2 linked regions of the Homo sapiens genome follow. The protein of the gene in region 1 interacts with the protein of each later gene in a biochemical or structural test. Each region holds a gene or a part of one and is shown in the gene's direction. Other genes may lie near its edges.

Region 1 (2,971 bases):
GATGATGAATTTTCTCAGATGACCCTAAGAAATTGTTTTACCAAAAACAAAGTGATCTATTTGCTTTGGGAGGAACTCCCTTCCTTTTGTTTCTCTTCCCTTCCCCCCTTCCCCTGCGGTTGTAGAGCCCGTTCTGTCCGGTCGTGGTTCTGTCCAGCCATGATCCGGGAGTCCTAGCTTGCTAATGGAACACCTGAGATGTTCCTTATGGCTCAAGGCTTGAATTGAAGGTGGGAACCACCTGAAGCCTCCGTGGGGAGGCCTTGCCTGAGGTTAGGTGTCTGGCATGAGTGCCGCCGGCTGGGTGTGATTTAGGTGAAGGACATCTGTAAAGGAGCGTGTCACAACCTCTGTTCCTTCTTCACATCTAGTGGTATCCTGAGGTGCGGCACCACTGTCCCAACACTCCCATCATCCTAGTGGGAACTAAACTTGATCTTAGGGATGATAAAGACACGATCGAGAAACTGAAGGAGAAGAAGCTGACTCCCATCACCTATCCGCAGGGTCTAGCCATGGCTAAGGAGATTGGTATGGAATCCTGTGTTTTTCCTCCTCCTTGTACCTCTTTTATTGTAGTGACAGAGACTGGAGTCCAGTCTGGGAAAGGAGGGTGTGTGTCTCCCACTCAGGGCCTGGTGTACTCTTGGGGAACCAGCTGGCAAGGCCCTGTGGGTCTTAACGTCAGCGTTGGAAGGTGGAAGCAGGGCTGGGAGCCGGCAGAAGGCGCCCGGGCCCCAGGAGCTGCCTCCCGCTGGTGGTGTGATCAGAAGAGAGTGGGGTCGAGTGTACATTGCCGTGTGGTCGTGTTTCCTGTAGGTGCTGTAAAATACCTGGAGTGCTCGGCGCTCACACAGCGAGGCCTCAAGACAGTGTTTGACGAAGCGATCCGAGCAGTCCTCTGCCCGCCTCCCGTGAAGAAGAGGAAGAGAAAATGCCTGCTGTTGTAAATGTCTCAGCCCCTCGTTCTTGGTCCTGTCCCTTGGAACCTTTGTACGCTTTGCTCAAAAAAAAACAAAAAAAAAAAACAAAAAAAAAAAACAACGGTGGAGCCTTCGCACTCAATGCCAACTTTTTGTTACAGATTAATTTTTCCATAAAACCATTTTTTGAACCAATCAGTAATTTTAAGGTTTTGTTTGTTCTAAATGTAAGAGTTCAGACTCACATTCTATTAAAATTTAGCCCTAAAATGACAAGCCTTCTTAAAGCCTTATTTTTCAAAAGCGCCCCCCCCATTCTTGTTCAGATTAAGAGTTGCCAAAATACCTTCTGAACTACACTGCATTGTTGTGCCGAGAACACCGAGCACTGAACTTTGCAAAGACCTTCGTCTTTGAGAAGACGGTAGCTTCTGCAGTTAGGAGGTGCAGACACTTGCTCTCCTATGTAGTTCTCAGATGCGTAAAGCAGAACAGCCTCCCGAATGAAGCGTTGCCATTGAACTCACCAGTGAGTTAGCAGCACGTGTTCCCGACATAACATTGTACTGTAATGGAGTGAGCGTAGCAGCTCAGCTCTTTGGATCAGTCTTTGTGATTTCATAGCGAGTTTTCTGACCAGCTTTTGCGGAGATTTTGAACAGAACTGCTATTTCCTCTAATGAAGAATTCTGTTTAGCTGTGGGTGTGCCGGGTGGGGTGTGTGTGATCAAAGGACAAAGACAGTATTTTGACAAAATACGAAGTGGAGATTTACACTACATTGTACAAGGAATGAAAGTGTCACGGGTAAAAACTCTAAAAGGTTAATTTCTGTCAAATGCAGTAGATGATGAAAGAAAGGTTGGTATTATCAGGAAATGTTTTCTTAAGCTTTTCCTTTCTCTTACACCTGCCATGCCTCCCCAAATTGGGCATTTAATTCATCTTTAAACTGGTTGTTCTGTTAGTCGCTAACTTAGTAAGTGCTTTTCTTATAGAACCCCTTCTGACTGAGCAATATGCCTCCTTGTATTATAAAATCTTTCTGATAATGCATTAGAAGGTTTTTTTGTCGATTAGTAAAAGTGCTTTCCATGTTACTTTATTCAGAGCTAATAAGTGCTTTCCTTAGTTTTCTAGTAACTAGGTGTAAAAATCATGTGTTGCAGCTTTATAGTTTTTAAAATATTTTAGATAATTCTTAAACTATGAACCTTCTTAACATCACTGTCTTGCCAGATTACCGACACTGTCACTTGACCAATACTGACCCTCTTTACCTCGCCCACGCGGACACACGCCTCCTGTAGTCGCTTTGCCTATTGATGTTCCTTTGGGTCTGTGAGGTTCTGTAAACTGTGCTAGTGCTGACGATGTTCTGTACAACTTAACTCACTGGCGAGAATACAGCGTGGGACCCTTCAGCCACTACAACAGAATTTTTTAAATTGACAGTTGCAGAATTGTGGAGTGTTTTTACATTGATCTTTTGCTAATGCAATTAGCATTATGTTTTGCATGTATGACTTAATAAATCCTTGAATCATACGACTGGTAATACTGGTGTTTTTGAGACTTGATGAACAAGTTCCTGGTGTGTGTTTGTTTGCCTTGCTTTAAAGTCCTGGGTTGTTGGAGACAGTCATTTTCAATGCGTGTCTCCACACAGGAGGGACAGGGAGTGCCACCTCCAGGGGAGAACTGGGTGAGCCCAAATACGGCAGGAGTGGAGGTGACATTCATGTTTGGACCTGTCGAACAGTGGCGAAGCTCTGAGGGAGAAGCGCCTATCGGGGTGTGTGTGCACATCCTGGCCCAGAGCTAGGGGCTGAAGATGGAGATGTTGGGACCCTAGACTGGCCCTGGAAGAGTAGAGGTTGGTGAACCACATGCCCTTAAGATCCTTTCCAGAGGCTGAGTGCGTGGCTTACGCCTCTAAGCCCGACGCTTTGGGAGGCTGACACAGGAGGAGCGCTTAAGCCCAGGAGTTCTAGACCAGCCTGGACAAGAAAGAGACCTACCCAAAAAAAAAATGCAAGAGCCTGAAC
Region 2 (3,500 bases), on another chromosome or scaffold:
TGTTGGCCAGGCTGGTCTCCAACTCCTGACCTCAAGTGATTCTTCTGCCTGGGCCTCCCAAAGTGCTGGGATTCCAGGCAAGAGCCACCGCACCTGGCCTGGTATGGATTTTCTTTTAACTGCCCTGGGGCAGCCCCCAGAGCCATGCGAGCAAGGCACTGAGGGAATCAAATTGACCTTTTTCCCTCTGGCTGCTGTAAGAAATAAAGGTGGAGAAAGCAGTGAGATGATGGAGGCCAGGCCAGGGTGGGGGACTTGGAAGGGACAGATGTCCACAGTCGGGGCTATATGGCAGAGACACGGTCATCGGAGTTTCCTGGTGGGTTGAAGGGTGAAAGGCTAGCTCCCAAGTTCCAACACCTCATTCACCCCAGCACTGTCCCCACCCACAGCCCCCCTGCCCTCTGTCTGGGCACCTGCTTTGTACCAGGCCCAGGAGGTCAGTCCTGCAGGGGACACAGAGACAAATACCCATACCATGGCAGCAAACACTGGCACCAGATAGGTCCAGAGCATTGCAGGTACAGAGATGAAGGCAGCTGACCCCCAGGGAACTAACTACCCAGAGCTGGAGACCAGAAGCGCAGGCAGCCCGCCAGAATGAATGGTGAAGGGTTAGGCTGTGAAGAGGAGGGGAGGCTGGAGGAGTTGGCAGGGAACCGCTCATGGCCTTCAGTGCCAGGCGGAGGAGCTGGAACCTTGTCCTGACAGCAGTAGGGGGCTATGGGGAGATATATAGCAGGGAGGGTCATGACTGGAGTTCAAAAGAGCCCTTGGACTCCCAGGCGGAGGGTGGGCCTGAGCTGGGGGCACTGGAGGCTGGGAGCCCAGTGGGGACAGATCCTCCACCCAGTAACCAAGTGGCTTCTCTGGACCCAGTGACTCCCGTGGACTGTGGTGGCAGCAGCAGTGGCAGCAGCAGTGGAGGAAGTGGGACATGGAGCCGCGGTGGGCCCCCAAAGAAGGAAGAACTGGTCGGGGGCAAGAAGAAGGGACGAACGTGGGGGCCCAGCTCCACCCTGCAGAAGGAGCGGGTGGGAGGAGAGGAGAGGTGAGGTGTGGTGTGGTCATGCCCACCCTGTGCCCAAGCCCCAGCTCCCAGGCTCCAGGCCACAGGACTGAGGTCTCCATCTCTCCCTGGACCCCGCAGGCTGAAGGGGCTGGGGGAAGGAAGCAAACAGTGGTCATCAAGTGCCCCCAACCTGGGCAAGTCCCCCAAACACACACCCATCGCCCCTGGCTTTGCCAGCCTCAATGAGATGGGTAAGAGCCTGGGTTCTTGTAAGGGGGTGGGGGTTCCCTGGCCAAAGGGGTGAGCCTCCTGGGGCTGAGCGAAGAGACCAGGTTTCACTGGGCCAGTGAGTGGAAGGCCTTCCTGGGAAGGGAGATGGTGGCCCCTGGGGCGTGGGGGGTCATTTCCAGGGGCAGGGACCACCCTTCTCTGAGGCTTCTCCTGGAGACAGATTCAAGAACGATGCTCGTGGGTCTTGGTCTTGCTGTTGGAGGGGTCATCGGGGGCTGTCCCTTGGCACAAGTCCCCGTGGGGCCCTGGCCAGCCCTGCAGCGGAGTGATGGCCCTCTCCGGTTGCAGAGGAGTTCGCGGAGGCAGAGGATGGAGGCAGCAGCGTGCCCCCTTCCCCCTACTCGACCCCGTCCTACCTCTCAGTGCCACTGCCTGCCGAGCCCTCCCCGGGGGCGCGGGCGCCGTGGGAGCCGACGCCGTCCGCGCCCCCCGCTCGGTGGGGACACGGCGCCCGGCGGCGCTGCGACCTGGCGCTGCTAGGCTGCGCCACGCTGCTGGGGGCTGTGGGCCTGGGCGCCGACGTGGCCGAGGCGCGCGCGGCCGACGGTGAGGAGCAGCGGCGCTGGCTCGACGGCCTCTTCTTTCCCCGCGCCGGCCGCTTCCCGCGGGGCCTCAGCCCACCCGCGCGTCCCCACGGCCGCCGCGAAGACGTGGGCCCCGGCCTGGGCCTGGCGCCCTCGGCCACCCTCGTGTCGCTGTCGTCCGTGTCCGACTGCAACTCCACGCGTTCACTGCTGCGCTCTGACAGTGACGAGGCCGCACCGGCCGCGCCCTCCCCACCACCCTCCCCGCCCGCGCCCACACCCACGCCCTCGCCCAGCACCAACCCCCTGGTGGACCTGGAGCTGGAGAGCTTCAAGAAGGACCCCCGCCAGTCGCTCACGCCCACCCACGTCACGGCTGCATGCGCTGTGAGCCGCGGGCACCGGCGGACGCCATCGGACGGGGCGCTGGGGCAGCGGGGGCCGCCCGAGCCCGCGGGCCATGGCCCTGGTGAGTGAGGCGCCCTGCACCCAGGTCACAGAAAACCCCTTCTTTCCTCCTCTGCCAGGGTCGCAAGTCCAGCCCAGCCACGACCCCTCAGGCAGCCACCTCCTGCTTCTTGTGGAGGAGGGAGGGTCTGTGTCCCTTTACCGCTCACTCCTGGAGGCATCGGGGGTCTCCAGGGGACTGAGACACAGGCGGCAAACTGATGCCTATAAGGCCAGGCAGGTGCCTATAGCGGTTGTGACCAGCATGACCATCGCCAATTCTTACACAGCCTAGACACTGTTCTCCTCCATCTGTTAACTGGGTGGGAGATGCGGCCATAGCAGTGTTATTAAGTACCCACGTCAGGCACTGTGCTGCTTGTTTTAAGTTATGGTTATTCTATTTGCTCCTCACCTGCGTGGTGAGGCACCATTTTTATCCCCCTTCAGAGCTAAGCCATGCCTGAGCTTAGCCCAGTGCAGGAGAGTCGGGAAGACCAGGGCTTTGGCCCCCGAGGCTGCCGCTAAGCAGCAGTTCCAGAAGGTTGAGGAACATGCCAGGGTCCACCCAGAGGAGCAAGCAGCTGGGAGTGGTCCCAGTCTAGGTCAAGGTCCCAGCACTGCCACACTACAGATGGAAACTGGATGCAGCAAGATCCACGGATTTCTCGAGAGAAACCAGAACTTGTGCTTTTCATGTAACAGCTCTGGGCTTTTTAATGCCACCCTCTGCCCCACCCCACTCACCTCCTCTGAACCTCTCTTACCAGGCCCTCGTGACCTTCTGGACTTCCCCCGCCTGCCCGACCCCCAGGCCCTGTTCCCAGCCCGCCGCCGGCCCCCTGAGTTCCCAGGCCGCCCCACCACCCTGACCTTTGCCCCGAGACCTCGGCCGGCTGCCAGTCGCCCCCGCTTGGACCCCTGGAAACTGGTCTCCTTCGGCCGGACACTCACCATCTCGCCTCCCAGCAGGCCAGACACTCCGGAGAGCCCTGGGCCCCCCAGCGTGCAGCCCACACTGCTGGACATGGACATGGAGGGGCAGAACCAAGACAGCACAGTGCCCCTGTGCGGGGCCCACGGCTCCCACTAAGGCCTGCCCACCACCGCCCGCCTGGGCAGCCATGAATGTAGCGCCCCAGGCCCTGCCCCAGCCCGCCATGCCACAAGGTGGGGGAGGCCCTGGGCAGGATGTTCACTCTATTTATTGGGGAAGGAGGGAGGGG

Evidence for each region. Proteins that work in one complex are often made in the same cells at the same time.
Region 2: the proteins of RAC1 (region 1) and MAP3K10 form a complex in vitro, tested with the Homo sapiens proteins (one study listed by BioGRID).

What each region holds. Positions count from the first base shown.
Region 1 is NC_000007.14:6,401,497-6,404,467, forward strand, and holds the end of RAC1 (ras-related C3 botulinum toxin substrate 1), read left to right. Parts: intron 1-371; coding exon 372-531; intron 532-819; coding exon 820-950; 3' UTR 951-2,471; downstream 2,472-2,971. UniProt on the Homo sapiens protein: Plasma membrane-associated small GTPase which cycles between active GTP-bound and inactive GDP-bound states.
Region 2 is NC_000019.10:40,211,926-40,215,425, forward strand, and holds part of MAP3K10 (mitogen-activated protein kinase kinase kinase 10), read left to right. Parts: intron 1-879; coding exon 880-1,051; intron 1,052-1,150; coding exon 1,151-1,263; intron 1,264-1,463; coding exon of another isoform or gene 1,464-1,591; coding exon 1,592-2,296; intron 2,297-2,724; coding exon of another isoform or gene 2,725-2,741; exon of another isoform or gene 2,742-2,976; intron 2,977-3,044; coding exon 3,045-3,367; 3' UTR 3,368-3,500. UniProt on the Homo sapiens protein: Activates the JUN N-terminal pathway.